Regions from separate parts of the Homo sapiens genome. Here region 1 is linked to region 2. The links come from fine-mapping of genetic effects on gene expression. A gene starts in region 2. The other region holds a variant in brackets. All regions are shown on one strand. Distances are between the middles of the regions. Region 1 overlaps NPLOC4 (NPL4 homolog, ubiquitin recognition factor). Region 2 holds the start of NPLOC4 (NPL4 homolog, ubiquitin recognition factor).

The links. PIP is the estimated chance that this variant, and not a neighbour inherited with it, causes the effect.
Region 1: its variant is fine-mapped to the expression of NPLOC4 in whole blood (INTERVAL, PIP above 0.99). The same link has a PIP of 0.9 or more in fibroblasts.

Annotation. Positions count from the first base shown.
Region 1 is chr17:81,553,423-81,564,198 of GRCh38, forward strand. NPLOC4 (NPL4 homolog, ubiquitin recognition factor) reads right to left here. Exons shown (of 17, transcript NM_017921.4): 17 at 3,465-5,994. The coding sequence ends at 5,837. It overlaps LOC124904085 (a long non-coding RNA gene), which reads left to right. Exons shown (of 2, transcript XR_007065947.1): 2 at 1-3,897. Among named protein-coding and RNA genes, the nearest start is that of FAAP100, 6.5 kb to the left of the region's middle. RefSeq lists enhancers at 1-562, 5,289-5,790, 5,791-6,290, 7,567-7,666. The variant A/G (reference allele first, on the strand shown) is at 5,212.
Region 2 is chr17:81,633,150-81,643,943 of GRCh38, forward strand. NPLOC4 (NPL4 homolog, ubiquitin recognition factor) reads right to left here and starts at 3,963. Exons shown (of 17, transcript NM_017921.4): 1 at 3,767-3,963. The coding sequence starts at 3,781. It overlaps TSPAN10 (tetraspanin 10), which reads left to right and starts at 4,047. Exons shown (of 4, transcript NM_001290212.2): 1 at 4,047-4,257; 2 at 9,158-9,299. The coding sequence starts at 9,264. RefSeq lists a silencer at 3,693-3,902.

The sequences.
Region 1 (10,776 bases), 80 kb before region 2:
TAGACAGACTCAAGTGCGGCACCTGGAGTCAGTTCCTTGCTCCTCTCTTCTCGCCAGGGCTGCTCTGAAGGTGTTTGGGCTGGAAATGCTGTCTTTGATGCTGGGGAGTGGGGAGAGGAGGGCCAGGTGCATCTCATTTGGCCTTCAGAGTCAGGAAGTCAGATGCCGCATCGTTGTGAATTTCCCCACAGGGATCCTCCGCTGGTCTTCTGACCGAATTTCCCCACAGGAATCCGCAGGTCTTCTGACTGCTAGTTTTAACCCTCTGAAGCCTTGTGAGTCACTCGCTCACACACACCAACCCCATCCAGTCCTCCCAGGCCATCTCTTCCATACGGATGGTAACATGCCAAGACTGTCCTAGAGGAAATGATCACGATCACGTGGAGGAGGAAACGGACGTGGGAGAAGGCCCGCCAAACCAGCAGCCTCACCCCGCGGTTTACTCCGCTGCCCACCCCACTCTGCTCCGGGGGCTGGCAGGCTTTTGGCCCCACGCCAAGCCCAGCTCCTATCTGCAACAAGATTTATGATCAGTAGTCATGTGGGGGACCTTAAGCATGGATCCCAGGGGAAAGGGGGTGAGTTAGACACAAGCGAAGGGCTGAAGGCCGGCTCTCCATCAGCTGCTGGGCTGTGCCGTGCCCCACCTGTACTTGGCGAAGAGTGATGAGGGCTGAGGCAGCCTCTCTGTCCGTGGGTGTGGAAGATGCACACACTCCTAGCGGAAGCCTTCGAGACAGCAGCGCAGACCGCTGGACACTGCGTTTCTATGCCCAACTTGGAGGTGTTATCATCTCCCTAAGCACGAAGTATATGAAGGAGTCAATTTAGGTCAGACTGAGGGGAGAAAAACCATGAAGCTTCAGGCTGTGTTGAGGGCGAGGAGGGCTGGGCCTTGAGGGACCTCTCCTCAGAGCAGCACAGCCCAATAAGGAGAACACAGCAGGAAGGTGAGGCAGGGACCCAGGAACCCGACTTCTCCCTTTTTTTTTTTTTGACACACACAGGTTCTCACTGTGTCTCCCAGGCTAGAGTGTAGTGGCACAGTCTCGGCTCACTGCAGCCTCAACACCCCAGGCTCAAGCCAACCTCCTGCCTCAGCCTCCCGAAAAGCTGGACTATAGGTGCACACTACCACGCCAGGCTAATTTTTTGTCTTTTTTAATAGAGACAGGGTTTCGCCATGTTGGCCACGTTGGTCTCGAACCCCGGGCCTGAGTTCTATTTCTAAGCAGTACAATTTGCTTGATTTAATGGGGGAGTGGCATCCAGAACTGTTTTAAATTTTTTAATTTTGGCCAGGCACGGTGGCTCATGCCTGTAATCCCAGCACTTTGGGAGGCCGAGGCGGGCAGGATCACAAGGTCAGGAGATCGAGACCATCCTAGCTAACACAGTGAAACCCCGTCTCTACTAAAAATACAAAAAAATTAGCTGGGCATAGTGGCGGCGCCTGTAGTCCCAGCTACTCGGGAGGCTGAGGCAGGAGGATGGTGTGAACCCGGGAGGCGAGCTTGCAGTGAGCCGAGATCACGCCACTGCACTCCAGCCTGGATGACAGATTAAAAAAAATTTTTTTTTAATTTTTTGAGACAGTCTTTTTTTTTTTTTGAGATGGAGTCTCACTCTGTCGCCCAGGCTGGATGGAGTGCAGTGGTGCCATCTCGGCTCACTGCAAGCTCTGCCTCCCAGGTTCACGCCATTCTCCTGCCTCAGCCTCCCGAGTAGCTGGTATTACAGGCACCTGCCACCATGCACGGTTAATTTTTTTGTATTTTTAGTAGAGACGGGGTTTCATTGTGTTAGCCAGGATGGTCTCCATCTCCTGCCCTCTTGATCCGCCTGCCTCGGCCTTCCAAAGTGCTGGGATTACAGGCATGAGCCACCACGCCTGGCCTATTTTTTGAGACAGAGTCTTACACTGTTCAGGTTGGAGTGCAGTGGCATAAACTCGGCTCACTGCAACCTCTGCCTCCTAGGTTCAAGCAGTTCTCCTACCTTGGCCTCCCAAGTAGCTGGGATTACAGGCGCACACACATCACTACACTGGCTAATTTTTTCTATTTTTTAGTGGAGATTGGGTTTCACCATGTTGACCAGGCTAGTCTTGAATTCCTGACCTCAAGTGATCCACCAGCCTTGGCCTCCCCAAAGTGGTGGGATTGTAGGTGTGAGCTGCCACACCCAGTTTTTTTGTTTTTTTTGTTTGAGACAGTCTTGCTCTGTTGCCCAGGCTGGAGTGTGCAGTGGCACAGTCTCAGCTCACTGCAACCTCTGCCCCCGGGGTTCAAGTGATCCTCCAGCCTGGGCCTCCCAAGTAGCTGAGATTACAAGTGTGCACCACCAGGCCCATCTAGTTTTTGTATTTTTAGTAGAGACAGGGTTTCACCGGGTTGGCCAGAACTTCTGACCTCAGGTGATCCACCTGCCTCGGCCTCCCAGAGTGCTGGGATTACAGGTGTGAGCCACTGCGCCCGGCTTTTATCTTTACATCGAACCAAAGAGGATGCCAAGGATCTTCACTGGCTCTCACATAAGACGGCCATGATCAGGTACTGGCTCACTGCATGGCCCAGGCTGCTGCTTTCTCTGATACAACCTCCCCGAGCCTCCTCACCTCAGCTTTTTAAATTTTTTTTCAGACAGGGTCTCACCCCGTGGCCCAGGCTGGACTTGCGATCACAGCTGGCTGCAGCCTCAACCTCCTGGGCTCAAGCGATCCCAGGAGCTGTGGGTAAATCGAGTGAACTGCACTGTGTTGAAGGTGCAGGATTGGAGTCCGGGTGCTGGGGGACTCACCCTCTCGCTCCTGGAGTCCAGAAGCCAGGACACCTTGGTCACTGTCCTGTGGCCTGCTTCACCCCAGGGCCCTCCTTCAGAAATTAGTTGGAGTTTTTTTTAGTAACTGCTCAAGTCAGCTATGAGTCACTGACCAAAGGACAAAGTGGTGCTGAACAGTGACTGCCAGGCTCCTATCTGAGGCTCAGAGAGCACTTGTTCTAGACGCTTTCTGTTGTCACAGGGAAAGACAGCTCAAGCAGGAACACAGGCAGTGTGTCACCCCCAGGCCTCACTCCTTGCTGCACCTGTGCAGTCTGGCCTTCCTGGGCTTTGTCCTTCACCTGCTGTTTGACCACATGTACCTGTCCACAAAGCAGTGACTGTGGGGCAGTCGCAGGGCTGACAGGTGCGGCAGAGGCAGAAGAGGCACCCAAGGGCGGCGGGGCCGTCAAACACTGACGCACTCTCCTCCTCCCCCAGATGTTAGCACTTTAAGAAACTTATCGAGGAGCCAAGGTTGGGAGGGATCGGCTGGGGAAGTGGGATCCCCACCTTTAAATGGACCATGCACATACACGTAAAACAGTGATATCTTGGAGACAAGTTATCAAATCCCCCCACACTGAGCAGATGCCAGACAACAGTTGAGTGCGCAGGAAGGACACACCAGGACCAGGCAGTTGCTTCAGGCGCTTTTATTAGGTTCCACTGCAGGGCTGGGGTCAATGTAATGCAAATCCAAGCCCAGTGATGCACACCTGTGAGCCGAAACAGAGCCGAAGCAGGAGCACCTGTGTCCCAGGAGCAGCTGGTTGGAGGGAGCCAGGGCCAGGCCCCACCTCCTCTCGGGACCAGGAGACTGGCAGCCGCTGTGTTCACCTGGGCAGGTGTGCACCCAGTCACCCCCACTGGATTATGGTGCTGGTAGCATGAGAGGGTGTGTCCACACCAAGGGCAGGTGAAGATGCGAGGTGGGGCTGAGACCTCCTTCCCACAAGAGGAGGTGGCTGAGCCTCCCAGGGCCTGAACTCTCACAGCAGGGCTCACCCCCAAGCCTGTATGCTTAGCTCTGACTCTCTTTGGACAATAAAATAAAGTGCATTACTGAACAAAGAGTAACTCAAAACCAGAATCAGACAAATCGCCAATGCTTTTCCTTTAGCTAAAAGACAAAAGAAAACATGAATGATGTGAATGCCGGAACTTCAGAGTAAGGGAAATGCTGGTGGAGGACAACGGAAACTATAATAGCGTGGTGGATAAGGACGAGCGAGTGGGAGAGGAACTGGCAACGCGGCTCTCTCTAGAAGTCCGTGCTGTCCAGCCTCTGCCCAGTGGTGGGGGAAGGCCTTGGACTCACAGGGAAGCAATGCAGGAAGCCTTGGCCACCTAGGCTCACAGCTCATCTCAGGACCAGAGGAGACAGCAGAGGACAAAACTTCAGTGTGACAGCTGCTAGGAGGGAGAGCAGACAGCCCGCGGTGGGCAAGCTGGGAGTTGCATCCGCAGCAGTCCGCTTCAACCCAGCTCCTCTCCACCCTTCCTGACCCTCCACAATAGCTCTGCCGTGACCAGACCCAACCCAACTGGCCCCTGGTCCCAAGAGCAGATGAGCTGCTTGGGCCTTCCACTTGGTGTCCCATGCCAGGCGGACCTGGAGGTGTCAGCCATGGCCCTGACCACTTCAGAAGCCAACAGGCAAATGTTCTCTGTTCATAGTGCCAAGAATGTGGGTCACGTGGGCTTACCCCCCAGGATGGACACAGAAGTCCCTAAGCAGTCTGCAGCTGGGCCAGCCTCTCCCGTGGGTGCAGAGCAGCCCAGATGTGGCCATCATTAAGGCAAAGAAGCATCGAGATGCCCACCACTCCCCGGGTAAGAGCCATGCCCCGGCCTGGCCACGCCACAGAGGAACGCAGAGCACACAAGCAGGACCCCACCACGTGCTGTTCCAGATCGCCCAGTCTCCCTCTATTGGTACACTATCAATTGTGCAGTGCCCCAGGGAGGTCCCAAATGGCCCTCACAAGAGGCACAGCCCCTAACGCCCTCAGCCAGGCGGTGCAGTGGGACGAAGCAGCGTATTGGGGAGGGCCAGAGCATCGGCACCGGTGACCCAGCTCTCCCACCCAGGCCATCGCAGGGCAGCCTCAGGGCAGGCGCCACCACTGCTCCTGCTCAGCCCGCAGTATCTGCAGTTGCTGCAGCTGTGTGGCTTGGTAGAAAAGTCTCAGGCACTGAGGTTTACTTCAAGGGAGAACTGACTGGTGCCCCCGTCCACACTCATCACCCTGGACACAACCTCGGGGGCTTCACTAAAGGAGGGAAGGATGTGGAAACTAGTCTCTCTCACTCCCCTTTTGTGCAGTTTTTATCTTAAAAAAAAATAAATAAAAGTCTTCTGGGCAGGAATTACTGATAACTGTT[A/G]TTATAACCAATGCAGACTTTAAAATCCCACCTGGACATCGGGTGAGAGGAGGAGGGCAGGCAGCAAACCGACCTGCAGACCTGCAGAGGGGAGCCGTGTCCAGGGCCACTGCGTCCCCACCAGACAACAGCTACTAGAAGAGGAAAGTGGCCCTCACAGGCAGGGTGCCTGCCACCAAGCAGTCAGACAAGGGGGTAACCAAGAGCTCCCAGCCAGAAAAACATGGGGGCAGGGAGGCCAAACAAAAAGCACTGAAAATAAAGAGAAGGCTGGGTGGTGGCAGCATCGGCCCCTCCCTGTGCGCCCCAATTCCAGGTGCCACGTAGAGGCGAGAGGTCTTTCCAACACGGCGGGGGACTTGTCAACAGGATTAGGCGTGAGGAGCCGCTCTGCGTTTCCAGTCTGGAGACTGCATTCAGCCTGCAGAATACCAGCCGTGGCGCCCGCTCTCCAGGGAGGAACGTGCTGAGAAGCTTCAGTGGGTCAGGGAGCCCAGGACAGCCAGCCCCTTGTTCCTCCAGGGCTGCCCACTATGGGGCAGTTACAGGGAACACACTCAGCAACGCTTCTGGCTTCAGGAAGGGCTGGGCTGGGCCCGGTCCTAGCCAGCAGAGGGCAGGCGCCCTAGGTCCTGGGGAGGCTGCACATCTCGCAGTGGCCTGTGCCTGGCTGGTTCATGAACGTGCAGTGCTGACAGGCCCACATGGCTGCAGTGGCCGTGTGTGTGGAGCCCCCGACGGCGCCGTACTCATGGAGACCTGGGAGCTGCCCGCCAACTGTGCCTGCAGGGTGGAAGAGAAATGAGCACTCATCATTTCTGGCCCACCAGAGACTGCCAGAGTGTGGGCATGGGGGCAGGGGCAGGCAGCTGAGAGCTCCCCGCCCCCAACATCCCACCCAGTGCTGGTCCTGCCCACACAGCACTCCCACCACAGGCACACTTTGAAGTGCTTAATGCCCTCAGAAAAATGCCTCCTGCACCACAGGGAGTAACAGGGAGCCTGTGCTTGCTGGTTCCTTTTTGTTGCAGAGGGTGCTTCTCCTTGTGAATAACGTAACTCCCCGGGGGATGTGCATTTGGGTTGTTTCCAGCTTTTTTTTTTTTTTTTTTTTTCTGAGGTAGGGTCTTGCTCTGTCACCCAGGCTGGAGTGCAGTGGCACGATCTCGGCTCACTGCAACCTCCACCTCCCGGGTTCAAGCGGTTTTCCTGCCTCAGCCTCCCAAGTAGCTGGGATTACAGGCATGAACCACAATGCCTGGCTAATTTTATCTATTTTTTGGTAGAACTAGGGTTTCACCATGTTGGCCAGGCTGGTCTCGAACTCCTGACCTCAGGTGATCCACCCACCTTGGCCTCCCAAAGTGCTGGGATTATAGGTATGAGCCACCATGCCCAGCCTCCAGTTTTGAGCTAATATGAACAAAGTTGCCAGGATCATTCTTCTACAATTTCTTTGTGGACCTGTGTTTTTATTTCTCTTGGATAAAAACAAAGAGTGAGGCTGGGTGCAGTGGGTCACGCCTGTAATCCCAGCACTTTGGGAGGCCGAGGCGGGTGGATCACTTGAAGTCAGGAGTTTGAGACCAGCCTGGCCAACATGGCGAAACCCGGTCTCTACTAAAAATAATTAGCCAGGCGTGGTGGTAGACACCTGCCGTTCCGGCTACTCAGGAGGCTGAGGAAGGAGAATCCCATGAACCCGGGAGGGGAAGCCTGCAGTGAGCCGAGACCCTGCCTCTTCACTCCAGCCTGGGCGACACAGCGAGACTCCATCTCAAAAACAAACAACAGGCCGGGCGCGGTGGCTCATGCCTGTAATCCCAGCACTTTGGGAGGCTGAGGTGGGCAGATCACAAATTCAAGAGATGGAGACCATCCTGGCTAACATGGTGAAACCCCGTCTCTACTAAAAATGCAAAAATTACCTGGGGGTGGTGGTGCGCACCTGTAATCCCAGCTACTAGGAAGGCTGAGGAAGGAGAATGGCGTGAACCTGGGAGGCGGAGGTTGCAGTGAACCGAGGTTGCAGTAAGCCGAGATCTCAAAACAAACAAACAAACAAACAACAACAACAAAAAACCTACCTAGGAATGAATCTGCCGGCCCACAGGGTAATGAATTGTGTGCTGAACTTTCTAAGACCCTGAGACACAGTTCTCGCGAGGGTGGCACGGTTTTGCCTCCCACTCGCAAGGTACGAGAGTCCCAGCTGCTTCACATCTTCACTCACACTTGACATTGTCGCGTTTTTTTCATTTCAGCCACACTGATGAATGTGTAACGGCTTCTCATGTTTTAATTTGCATTTCCCTGATGACTAATGATAGTGACTGTTCCTGCATCTCCTTTTTTTTGTTGTTGCCGAGGCTGGAGTGCAATGGCGCAATCTCGGCTCGCTGCAACCTCTGCCTCCTGGGTTCAAGCGATTCTCCTACCTCAGCCTCCCAAGTAGCTAGGATTACAGGCACGTGCCACCACACCTGGCTAATTTTTTTTATTTTTAGTAGAGATGGGTTTTCACCATGTTGGCCTGGCTGTCTCGAACTCCTGACCTCAAATGATCCACCGCCTCGGCCTCCCAAAGTGCTGGGATTACAGGCGTGAGCTACCATGCCCGACCTGCATTTCCTTTTGTGAAACGTTTCACCCTCCGCCCAGCTTCTTCTTCTGCTTTCTGTTTGATTAACAACAGGCAGAGTTATTTTTAAGTTTCAGATAGAAGTCATGTTGTGTGTATGTACTGCTAATACTGCGTCCCCCATTGGTGCCTTTTCATGTTTCTAACAGTGCCCTGTGATGAGCACAAGTGTTTTGTTTAGATAAATTTATTTATCAATTTACCTATTTTTATGCCAGTGTTTTTCTGTGTTCTACCCCAAGGTCCTGCATCCTGCCTAAAAGAATCTTTGCGTACCCCAAGGCCCTGAAGAGATTCAACTTAATAACTGTTTTACAGTTTTTATTTTTTTAAGACAGGGTATTGCTCTGTCATTCAGGCTGGAGTGGTATAATCATGGCTCACTGTGACCTCGACCTCCTGACTCATGGGATCCTCCCATTTCAGCCTCCCCAGAAGCTGGGATTATAGGCGTGGACCACTCACCATGCCCAGCTAATTCTTTTTTTTTTAATATTGTTTTTTTGTACAGACGGGGCTTCACTATGCTGTGTGGGCTGGTCTCACACTTCTGGGCTACAGTGTCCTCCAGCTTTGGCCTCCTAGAGTGTTAGGATTATAGCTATGAGACATCATGCCCAGCCTGCTTCATAGTTTTACCTTTTACCATTAGGCCTATGACCCATCCTGAGCTGATCTTTGTGTCTTGTGTATACACGTCTGTAATCCCAGCACTTTGGGAGACCGAGGCAGGTGGATCACCTGAGGTCAGGAGTTCCAGACCAGCCTGACCAACATGGTGAAACCCCATCTCTACTAAAAATATAAAAATTAGCCAGGCGTGGGTGCACGCCTGTAGTCCCAGCTACTCGGGAGGCTGAGGCAGGAGTATCACTTGAACCCAGGACGTGGAGGTTGCAGTAAGTGGAGATCATGAGATTGCACTGCAGCCTGGGTGACAGGGTGAGATTCCGTCTCAAAACAAAACAAAACAACCCATGAGGGCCGGGCGCGGTGGCTCACACCTATAATCCCAGCACTTTGGGAAGCCGAGGTGGGTGGATCACTTGAGGTCAGGAGTTTGAGACCAGCCTGGCCAACATGGAGAAACCCTGTCTCTACTAAAACTAAAAAAATTAGCTGGGTGTGGTGGCAGCCACCTGTAATTCCAGCTACTTAGGAGGCAGAGGCTGGACAATGGCTTGAACCCGGGAGGTGGAGGCTGCAGTGAGCTGAGATCACACTACTGCACTCCAGCCTGGGCAACAGAACAAGACTTTGTCTCAAAACAAACAAACAAAAAACCCATGAAAAAATGCCCAACATCACTAATCATCAGAGATGCAAATTAAAACCACAGTGAGATACCAGTCAGAACTTACACCAGTCAGAACTGCCTATTATTAAAGAGTTGGCTGGACATGGTGGCTTACCACTGCAATCTCAGCACTGAGGCGGGAGGATCGCTTGGGCCCAAGAGTTCAAGACCAGCCTGGGCAACATAGTGAGACCTCATCTCTACAACAAATTTAAAAAATCAGCCAGGGATGGTGGCACATGCTTGTAGTCCCAGCTGCTCAGGAGGCTGAGGCGGGAGGATTGTTTGAGCCTGGGGAGGTCAAGGTGAGACTGACCTCAAATGCCACTGCACTTCAGCCTGGGTGACAGAGTGAGAACCTGTCTCAAAAAAAAAAGGAGGGGGGAAAAAAAAAAGGTCAGGTGCAGTGGCTCACAGCTGTAATCTCAGCACTTTGGGAACCAAGGCAGGAAGATCACTTGAGCCTAGGAGTTTGAGACCAGCCTGGGCAACATGGCAAGACCACATCTTTTTTTTTTTTTTGAGACAGAGTCTTGCTCTGTCGCCCAGGCTGGAGTACAGTGGCACGATCTCAGCTCACTACAACCTACGCTTCCTGGGTCAAGTGATTCTCCTGCCTCAGCCTCCTGAGTAGCTGGGATTACAGGCGCTCGCCACCATGCCCAGCTAATTTTTGTAGTTTTAACAGAAATGGGGTTTCACCATGTTGGCCAGGATGGTCTCAATCCCTTGACGTTGTGATCCACCTGCCTCAGCCTCCCAAAGTGCTGGGATTACAGGTGTGAGCCAGCCACCGGGCCCGGCCAACCCTATCTCTTAAAGAAAAAAAAAAAACACCAACCAAAAACATTAGTTGGGTGTAGTGGCTCATGTTTATACTCCTAGGTACTCCGAAAGCTGATGCAGGAGGATCGCTTGAGCTCAGGAATTGAAGGCTGTAGTGAGCTATGATCACTCCACTGCACTCCAGCCTAGGCAACAGAGTGAAACCCTGTCTCTAAAAGGGAAACAAAAAAGAAAAAAAAAAAAAAGACTGGTGTCATTGTTAGAACTGCATCAAAGGGCTGGGTGCAGTGGCTCCCAGGTATAATCTCAGGACTTTGTGAGGCTGAGGTGCAAGGAATGCTTGAGGCCAAAGTTTGAGACCAGTCTGGGCAACACAGTGAGACCTCATTGATACAAAAATATTAAAAAATTTTGCAGCCATAAAAAGGAATGAAATCATGTCCTTTGCAGCAACATGGATGCAGTTGAAGGCCATTATTCTAAGCAAACTAATGCAGGAACAGCAAACCAAATACTACATGTTTTCATTTATAAGTGGGAGCTAAACATGGGTACTCACGTACATAAAGATGGCAACGCCAGGTGTGGTGGTACACATCTGTAATCCCAGCTACTCGGGAGGCTGAGGGAGGGGAATTGCTTCAACCCAGGAGGCAGAGTTTGCAGTGAGCTAAGATTGCGCCACTGCACTCCAGCCTGGGAGACAGGGTGAGGCTCCAGCTCAAAACACACACACACACACACACACACACACACACACAAAGAGCAGGGCGGGCTGAAAAACTATTAGGTACTATGTGTAGTACCTGGGTGATGTGATCAATCATACCCCAACCTCAGC
Region 2 (10,794 bases):
GAAATACAATTCTTTATACTTCTAACGTCTAGTATACTTCATTCTAGATTCAATACCCCAGAAAAACGTTTTCACAATATATAGCATTAGGTAAATACTTCCACTTATTTGTTTCTAAAATCTGTCTGCCAACACTTAGCTATCTTAAAAAGGAAAGCTCTGTTCTAATGAAGGGGAACATGTGAATGTTCCTTCAAACGATGACTCTGGAACAAGAGCATGTTACCGCCATTCTTTACAGAGCTAAATGGTTCAGGCTGCAGAATTCTAAGGTGAAGAAGTCATCCTACTTGATCCTCTACCACAGAAGATGGGAGTCCAGGTTTCCAAGGCCAACTCCAGTATTTAACAAGAGACAAACATAATTTGTACGATGGAAAGTTCTGGCCTAGCCTCTGACACAGACTACAAAATGAAATACACAGGAAGAGACAGACCTGACAACATGAACACACAGCCTCTTGGTAACTTAAGTTTCCCTATTTATAAGAAAATAAGACTAGAACGCTTCTTGGGGAAGTTGAAGAACTGGTGAGATACAGTTAAATCCACAGAAACTCTTTTCTCCCCCCAAGACAGAGTCTTGCTCTGTCACCCAGAGTGGGAGTGCGATGGCGCGACCTCGGTTCACTGCAACCTTTGCCTGCCGAGTTCAAGCAATTCTCTTGCCTCAAGCCTCCCAAGTAGCTGGGATTATAGGCGCCCGCCACCGCGCCCAGCTAATTTTTTTTTTTTTTTTAAGAGTCTCACTCTGTCACCCAGGCTGGAGTGCAGTGGTGCGATCTCGGCTCACTGCAATCTCCGCCTCCCGGGTTCTAACTTTTCTGCCTCAGCCTCCTGAGTGGCTGGGACTACAGGTGCACGCCACCACGCCCGGTTAATTTTTTGTATTTTTTTTTTTTAGTAGACGTGGGGTTTCACCGTGTTGCCCAGGCTGGTCTCAAACTCCTGAGCTCAGGCAATCCACCTGCCTCGGCCTTCCAAAGTGCTAGGATTACAAACGTGAGCCACCACGCCCTAATTTTTGTATTTTTAGTAAAGACGTGGTTTCACCATGTCGGCCAGGCTGGTCTCAACTCCTGACCTCATTATTCACCTGCCTCGGCCTCTCAAAGTGCTGGGATTACAGGTGTGAGCCACCATGCCCAGCCCAGAAACTTTTCAAAAGATCTCTTTCTTAAATTCAAAATAACTTTTTAAATCAATTTCAAAAGAAGAGTGTTTTAATTCCTCACAATCTGAGACATTCAACGAGATCCAATGCTGTCAATGAGAGCCTAGCCTTATACACTAGTGGGAAAAAAAAAATGGCCTTGTCTGAAACACTTTTCACTTGTCAATGGTTATTTTAACTCAGTTAAAAGTACAAAGGTAGTTTGAAAGAAGGTTTCAGTGCTAATTCCTAACCTATTTCTAGGCAAAGTCACCAATGATTAACACTTTTTTTTTTTTTTTTGAGACAGTCTTGCTCTGTCGCCCAGGCTGGAGTGCAGTGGCGCAATCTGGGCTCACTGCAACCTCCACCTCCCGGGTTTGAGCGATTCCCCTCCCTCAACCTCCAGAGTAGCTGGGATAACAGGTGCATGCCACCACACCCGGCTAATTTTTTATTTTTAGTAGAGACAGGGTTTCACCATGTTGGTCAGGCCAGTCTTGAACTCCTGACCTCGTGATCCGCCCACCTCGGCCTCCCAAAGTGCTGGGATTACAGGCGTGAGCCACTGCATGGCCACATTTTATTTTTCAAAGGAGTCAAAGGTTTCTTGGCCGGGCATGGTAGCTCAGGACTGTAATCCTAGCAATTTTGGGACCCCAAGGTAGGAGGATCCCTCGAGCTCAGAGACCAGCCTGTACAACATAGTAGAGACCTCATCTCTATAAAAAAATGTTTTTAATTAAAAAGATTTAAAGGCCAGGCGCGGTGGCTTATGCCTGTAATCCCAGCATTTTGGTATGCCAAGGCGGGCGGATCACGAGGTCAGAAGTTCGAGATCAACCTGGCCAACACGGTGAAACCCCATCACCACTAAAAATAAAAAAGACATCAGCCATGCGTGTTGGCGAGCACCTGCAACCCCAGCTACTCGGCTGAGGCAGGAGAATTTCTTGAACCCGAGAGGCGGAGGTTGCAGTAAGCAGAGATCGCACCACTGAACTCCAGCCTGGGCGACAGAGTGAGACTCCATCTCAAAAAAATAAAATAAGGTTAAAAAAAAAAAAAAAAAAGGAGTCGACGTTTCCTAAGTTTCTCCTGGGCCATATATTCATTCCACTCATCTCCAGGTTGGGAAACATGGAGGCACCAAGAGGGCCCCTGACTGGAGAGATGATGGAACCACCAGAGAACAGCCTTGCAAATAAGTGCTAGGTTCTCCTGGAGACCCATTTGTTTGTGTGTGTGAGACAGTCTCATTCTGTCGCCCAGGGTGGAGTCCAGTGACGCCACCTAGGCTCACTATGTTGTCCAGGCTGGTCTTGAACTCCTGACCTCAGGTGATCCACCCACCTGGGCTTCCCAAAGTGCTGGGATTACAGGTGTGAGTCACCGCGCCGGGCCTGGAGACCTATTCTAGACAACACCTGGCAAAACTGCAGAGACTGTCACAATGCTACAGTATGAACATTACTCTTCACCCAATACTGCTAAGCTTCCCCCAGAAATCCCAAATCTTCCTTAATATTAACCAAAATGCTCCTGTCCAATGGTCAGTTAGTTTTTTTCCCATCACATTTACTTTTGGGAAGAAACTTCTCACAACTTAACGAGGGACTGGTTTTCTGATTTGTCACTGATATTTTTTACGTTAAGGAGGAGTGTGTGACAATTTTTTTTTTTTTTTTGAGACGCAGTCTCGCTCTATAGCCCAGGCTGGAGTGCCATGGAGGGATCTCAGCTCACTGTAACCTCCACCTCCCGCGTTCAAGCAATTCTCCTGCCTCAGCCTCCCAAGTATCTGGGATTACAGTGCGCCATGACGCCCGGCTAATTTTTTGTATTTTTAGTAGAGACAAGATTTTGCCATGTTGGCCAGGATGGTCTCGAACTCCTGACCCCAGGTGATCCACCCGCCTCGGCCTCCCAAAGTGCTGACATCACAGGCGTGAGCCACTGCGCCGGGCCGACAATTTCAATTTCAGGTAAAAAGTGAAATCAACATCATTTACAACATTCCTTTTAAAGAGGAATTGTCAAGTTGTCCTTCCAAGTAAGGAGCAAAGCCGGCAAGTTACTGTGTTTTCATTTTCCCAGGTCTTCTGGTGGGGAGGGAGCTCTGTAACGTCCCCGTCTGCAGAGCTGCTCTCCTTAGTGACTCATGACAAGGCACTTGCTGGGAAGCGGGAGAGCAGGAGGAGAGAATCAGAGGGAGATTAGGATAAGAGGTGTCCCTGGCTCTGAGAGGGGCAGGACTGGCTGGGAGTCCCTGGAATTAGACCAGGAAGTCTCCTGGAGCCGGGAAACGGGTGGGGAAGGAGGGCGGTTTCTCTTCGCCACAGTCCATTCTCCCTGCTTAGAAAGGCTCGGCCTTTCCCTGCCCAGGGCGGGGAACCGGGGTCGTAAGTCCCCTGGGGAGGGACACGGACGGGAAGCAGCCGAGGGGGGTGAAAGTCCCCGAGAGGGGCCCAGCCACTACAGAGAAAGCCCTGGCGAGAGAAGAGAAAGGGGCCGAGTCGCGGCGCCGGCAGGCCCGCCTCCCCCACAGGCCGAGGCCGGCAAATCTGCTGCCTCATCCCGGCGTCCCCGCTCCCGCCCGGCCGCCGCACTCACGATGCTCTCGGCCATGGCGGCTGCTCCTGCCTCCGGGCTCGAGCCCCGGGCCGCCGCCGCCTGCCGCCCCAAGGGCCTCGCAGACCCGGCCGCGGCCTCAGCCCCGGCCCCGGCCTCCCTACGCCGCCGCCACCGCCGCTCCAGCTTCGCCCGCCCGGCTCCGCCAGCCGCCGACGTCCCGGTGCCTCGCTCAATACGCTCCCCTCGGGCGCGAGGCCGGGAAACCAGGTTCCGGCCCCACCAACGGCTCGACGCATGCGCAGGGCGGCGCCGCTGACCCGCCCCCGCCATCCCTGCAACTGGAGGAGGGGATTTTGGAAAGTTGCGTCTGAGATTACTTCTGCTCGTCCTCGGAAACCCAAGCGGCACAGGAAAGTCCAAAAAGGAAGCAAAGACGAGCATCCGAAGTCTCACCCAAAAATAACTACTGCTGCGTATTATAGCGTATTATAATTGGGGAAACAGCATTCCAAACTTCTCTCCATGCACAGGTAAGTAGAGAAACAATTTCAGGAAGGCAGGATCACACCTTCATGTTTTTTTTTTTAAGTATTTTTTAAATTTAACATAAGAAAAACAAACGAGTTTAAACTGCATTTCAGGCCGGGCGCGGTGGCTCATACCTGTAATCCCAGCATTTTGGGAAGCCAAGGTGGACGGATCACCTGAGGTCAAAAGTTCGAGACCAGCCTGGCCAAAATGGTGAAACCCCGTCTCTACTCAAAATACAAAATTAGGCCATACGCGGTGGCTCACGCCTGTAATCCCAGCACTTTGGGAGGCCGAGGCAGGTGGATCACCTGAGGTCAGGAGTTCAAGACCAGCCTGACCAACGTGGTGAAACCCCGTCTCTACTAAAAATACAAAAATTAACTGGGCGTGGTGGCGGGCACCTGTAATCCCAGCTACTCGGGAGTCTGAGGCCGGAGAATCTCTTGAAGCGAAGAGGCGGAGGTTAGAATGAACTGAGTTGGTGCCACTGCACTCCAGTCTGGGCGACAGAGTGAGACTTCATCTCAAAAAAAAAAAAAAAAGACGTCACTTCACAGATTCTAAGGATTTTTGGAGTTGGATACCAGGAAACCGGAAGACTAAATGTATACATATTTCACAACATCACAATTACTGTGACAGTTTTTTTAAACTATGTTAAATTACATTAATTGATTAAATTATGTTAGTAATTGTATTAGTTTGCTCAGGGTGCCACTGTAACTACCCAACATATTGTCCCTGCCCACTGCCTAGACTTTATCAAGACAGGGGAATTGCAATAAAGAGTTTAATTCACACAGAGCCAGCTTGTACAGGTTACTGAGGTTTTATTACTACTCAAAAAAAATTAGTGTCCTTGAGAATTCAGGGATCAGAGTTTTTTGTTTTTTGTTTTTTTTTGTTTTTGAGTCCGAATCTCACTCTGTCACCCACACTGGAGTGCAGTGGCGCGATCTCGGCTCACTGCAACCTTCACCTCCTGGGTTCCAGTGATTCTCCTGCCTCAGCCTCCCGGGTAGCTGGGACTACAGGCGCACACTACCATGCCTGGCTAATTTTGTATTTTTCGTAGAGACGGAGTTTCTCCATGTTGGTCAGGCTGGTCTTGAACTCCTGACCTCAGGTGATCCGCCCACCTGGGCCTCCCCAAAGTGCTGGGACTATAGACGTGAGCCACCGTGCCCGGCTGGGGATCCGCGGTTTTAAGGATAATTTGGTGGGTATGGGGTCAGAAAGTAGGGAGTGTTGATTGGTTGGGTCAGAGGTGAAATGATAGGGAGTCAAAACTGTCCTCTTGTGCTGAGTCGGTTCCTGGGTGGGGGCCACAAGATATGAGCCAGTTTATCAATCTGGGTGGTGCCAGCTGATCCATGGAGTGCAGAGTCTGCAAAATATCTCAAGCGCTGATCTGTTTTTTAATAGTGATGTTATCCTGAGAAGCAATTTGGGAGGTTTAGAATCTTGTAGCCTCCAGCTACATGACTCCTAAACCATAATTTCTAATCTTATGGCTAATTTGTTAGTCCTGAAAAGGCAGTCTTGTCCCCAGGTAGGAAGGGAGTTTGTTTTGCAAAGGGCTGTTACCATCTTTGTTTCAAAGCTAAACTATAAACTAAGCGCCTCCCGAAGTTATTTCAGCCTACACCCAGGAATGAACAAGGACAGCTTGGAGGTTAGAAGCAAGATGGGTTCAGTTAAGTCCGATCTCTTTAACTGTAATAATTATCTCAGTTATAAGAAAATATAACATAACAAAATCTCTCACAGACTGGGTGGTGGTTTGGAATTACTTTTCTTTTTTTTTTTTTTTTTTTTTGAGTCGGATCTCCCTCTGTCGCCCAGGTTGGAGTGCAATGGCGCGATCCCAGCTCACTGCAACCTCCGCCTCGTGGGTTCAAGCGATTCTCCTGCCTCAGCCTCCTGAGTAGCTGAGATTACAAGCGTGCGCTACCACGCCCGGCTAATTTTTATATCTTTAGTAGAGACAGGGTTTCACCATGTTGGTAAGGCTGGTCTCGATCTCCTGACCTCGTGATCCACCCGCCTCAGCCTCCCAAAGTGCTGGGATTATAGGCATGAGCCACCATGCCCGGCCTGGAATTACTTCCTAACAGTCCTGGAAGCTAGAATCCCAGATCAAGGTGTCAGTAGACGTGGTTTCTCCTTTGTTTTCTTCTTTTTTTTTTCTTTTAAGGCTGGGGTCTTGGCCGGGCGCGGTGGCTCACGCCTGTCATCCCAGCGCGGTGGCTCACGCCTGTCATCCCAGCACGGTGGCTCATGCCTGTCATCCCAGCGCGGTGGCTCACGCCTGTCATCCCAGCACTTTGAGAGGCCGAGGCAGGTGGATCACGAAGTCAGGAGATCGAGACCATCCTGGCTAATATGGTGAAACCCTGTCTCTATTAAAAATAAAAAAAAAATTAGCCGGGCGTGGTGGCGGGTGCCTGTAGTCCCAGCTACTCGGGAGGCTGAGGCAGGAGAATGGCGTGAACCCGGGAGGCAGAGCTTGCAGTGAGCCGAGATCACGCCACTGCGCTCCAGCCTGGGCGACAGAGCAAGACTCCGTCTCAAAAAAAAAAAAAAAAGAAAAGACTGGGGTCTCACTCCCATCGCCGAGGCTGGAGTGCAGTGGCACAATCGTGGCTCACTGTAGCCTCGACTTCCCAGGCTCAGGTGATACTCCCACCTCAGCCTCCTCAGTAGCTGGGACCACAAGTGCTCACAATCACACCTGGCTAACTTTTTGTATTTTTAGTAGAGATGGGATCTTGCTATGTTGCCCAGGCTGGTCTCTAACTACTACTAGGTTCAATCAATCCACCCACCTCAGCCTCCCAAAGTGCTTAGATTACAGGCATAAGCCGCTGTACCCAGCCAGGTTTCTTCTTATACCTCTCTCCTTAGCTCGAAGATGGCACCTTCTCCCCGAGACCTCACATGTTTTTTCTTCTGTGCACACATTCCTCGTGTCTCTCCATGTGTCCCACCGTGTGTCCCAATTTTCTTGTAAGGATGTTGGATTAGGGCCCACGCTAATGGCACTTATTTATTTATTTAGGGATGGAGTCTTGCTCTGTCACCAGGCTGGAGTGCAGCGGCACCATCTCGGCTCACTGCAACCTCTGCCTCCTGGGTCCCAGCAATTCCCCTGCCTCAGCCTCCCATGTAGCTGGGATTACAGGCATGCGCCACGATGCCCAGCTAATTTTTTGTACTTTTAGTAGAGACAGGGTCACACCATGTTGGCCAGGCTGGTCTCAATCTCCTGACCTCATGATCCACCTGCCTCGGCCTCCCTAAGTGCTGGAATTACAGGTGTGAGCTACCGCGCCCAGCCCCTAATGGCCTTTAAAGGCCCTGTCTCCAAGTCCCATTCTGAGGTCCGGGGGGCTAGAACTTTATCATAAGAATGTAAGGGGCACAATTCAGCCATAACAGTGGTAGATGATGATCGTTTCATTAAAAGATTACCCAGACTTTGGCCGGGCGTGGTGGCTCACGCCTGTAATCCCAGCACTTTGGGAGGAGGAGGCGGGCAGATCACTTGAGGTCAGGAGGTCGAGACCAGACTGGCCAACATGGTGAAACCCCATCTCTACTAAAAATACAAAATCAGTCAGGTGTGGCGCCTGCAATCCTAGTTACTCAGGAGGCCAAGGCAGGAGCATCGCTTGAACCCAGGAGGCAGAGGTTGCGGTGAGTCAAAATCGTGCCACTGCATTCCAGCCTCAGCAACAGAGCGAGACTCTTGTCTCAAAAAAAAAAAGGTTACCCATCCTTAGAACAGACTGAGTTGGAGGCCGTGGACAGTCCCTGTGACCGTGACCCTGGCTGTGGAGCTGCTGCAGGGCCCATGAGGTTGGGTTTGTCACCTTTGGGGAGGTGAAGGGAAGCTGGAGCCCAGAAGCTCAGCCTGCAGCTCTGGTCCTCGCCCCGACTTCCCACCTGCAGCATATCCCACTTCTCCGAGGAAGATCTGAAGACTCAGAGTGGCCTTCAAGGCCTCACCTGATCCAGCCCTGTCACCTCATGGACCTCCCTCCCACCCCCATCTCCGCTTGCCCCACACAGCCAGGTGACCTTTCCTCCTAAAACTTGCCCGGTGTGCTCCCACCCAGGCGTCTCACGCGCGCCTGAAACCCTCTGCCTGCTCCATCAGTACATTGCCTGCTGTGCTGCACCACCCAGACCACCTCTTTGGACTGCTGAGTGTTGGTGGCTGAGTCCGGGCACAGTGGCTCCAGCCTGTAATCCCAGCACTTTGGAAGGCCAAGGCAGGAGAATCACTTGAGTCCAGGGGTTCAAGACCAGCCTGGGCAGCACAGCAGAACCCTGTCTCTACAAAAAAAATTCAAAAATGAGTGAGGCAAGGTGGCGTACATCTGTAGTCCCGGGAGGCGAGGTTGCAGTGAGCCGAGATTGCGCCATTGCACTCCAGCCTGGGCAACAAGAGCGAAACTCAGTCTCAAAAACAAAAACAAGGAGGTGATCTGGTGGGGGGACGCTGTTTCATTCGTGCAGTGAACAAGCCGGGGGATAGATTGGCGCTGGGGCTGCCCATGGGTCTCTTGGGATTGGGGTTGTGAACCAATTTACCAGGGTCTGATTCCCTGGTTGGGAGCTGATGGAGCGGCTGCTGACCCTGCAGAGCTGAAGTCCGCATGGGGGGCTGCAGTGAGAGCCACAAGGCTGGCACCCAAACATGCCTGCCTGAGTCACACCTGCGCTGAGCTTAGGGGACCCACAGAGCCAGGGCTGGGGAGAAATATATCTCCACAAGCAGAGGCCTCCTTAAGCTCTAAAATGTGATTCTTCACATGACTCAACTGTGACTCCGGCATCTGGGTAGGGCTCGCACCTCCCCCATTCCCATGCCCAGGGCTGCACTGTTCACAGACTAGCCCAGGGCCGCAGTCAGGACCAGCCCAGCAGCCCAGCCACAGAGGAGCCAGCGAACCTCTCCCGGCGCCTGTGCTGGGGGCTTTCTGTTCCAGCGTCAAGGATGGAGGAGGGGGAGAGGAGCCCCTTACTGTCCCAGGTGAGCCATGCCAAGTGGCCTTGCCCTGAGGTTGGAGATGTCCCCAGCCCTGAAGTCCTAAGGGAAGTCCCTGGGCTGGGTTCACACCCACCCCTGCCCCTGGTGCCACCCCACACCTCAATGCTGAGATTGGGTTGAGGGGGGTGGTTCTAGGCAGCCCCCTCCCCCTTCCCCACTGCGCAGTTCTCTCAGCCCCATGCTGGCCTCTGGTCAAGGGATCTGCCAGATCTCCCTGAGGGCCTTGGGGGCAATCTTTGGCTCAGGGTGCAGGAGGGGGTGAAGGCAAATGTCCCTTGCAGCCAGCCTCCAACGGCCTCTGGCCCCCAGTGGCCCCAGTCTGGCCAACCAGGCACTGACAGCCTGTCCTTTTGCTTCTAGTGACTTGTTGAGGTCTTGGGGGTGATAAATAACCCTCCTCTGGGGCCGGGCACAGTGGCTCACTCCTGTAATCCCAGCACTTTGGGAGGCTGAGGAGGGAAGATTGCGTGAGCCCAGGAGTTCAAGACCAGCCTGGGCAATGTAGCGAGACCCTGTCTCTACAAAATATTATATATATATATATATATATATATATTTAGATAGAGTCTCGCTCTGTCACCAGGCTGGAGTGCAGTGGCACAACCTCGGCTCACTGCAACCTCCGCCTCCTCGGTTCAAGCAATTCACATGCCTCAGCCTGCTGAGTAGCTGGGATTACAGGCACATGCCACCACACCCAGCTAATTTTTTTTAGTCGAGACAGGGTTTTACCATGTTGGCTAGGATGGTCTCGATCTCCTGACCTCGTGATCCACCCGCCTCGGCCTCCCAAAGTGCTGGGATTACAGGCATGAGCCACCGTGCCCGGCCTACAAAAAATAATTTTAAAAAATTACCGGGACGGCCGGGCGCGGTGGCTCACGCCTGTAATCCCAGCACTTTGGGAGGCCGAGGCGGGCGGATCACGAGGTTAGGAGATCGAGACCATCCCGGCTAAAACGGTGAAACCCTGTCTCTACTAAAAATACAAAAAATTAGCCGGGCGTAGTGGCGGGCGCCTGTAGTCCCAGCTACTTGGGAGGCTGAGGCAGGAGAATGGCGTGAACCCGGGAGGCGGAGCTTGCAGTGAGCCGAGATCCCGCCACTGCACTCCAGCCTGGGCGACAGAGCGAGACTCCGTCTCAAAAAAAAAAAAAAAAAAAAAAAATTACCAGGACATGGTTGCAGTGCCTGTAGTCCCAGCTACTCAGGAGGCTGAGGAGGAAGGATGGCTTGAGCCCAGGAGTTTGAGGCTGCAGTGAGCTGAGAGCCTGATGCTGTGATCAGCTTCTTCCTGGTGAAACTGGATTGGAATGGGATCCTTGCCCAGCACACAGCCATGGCTGCTTTTTATTATTTATTTAGTTTTTGAGATGGAGTCTCGCTCTGTCACCCAGGCTGGAGTGCAGTCACGCGATCTCTGCTCATGCAACCTCTGCCTCCTGCTCATGCAACCTCCACCTCCTGGGTTCAAGCG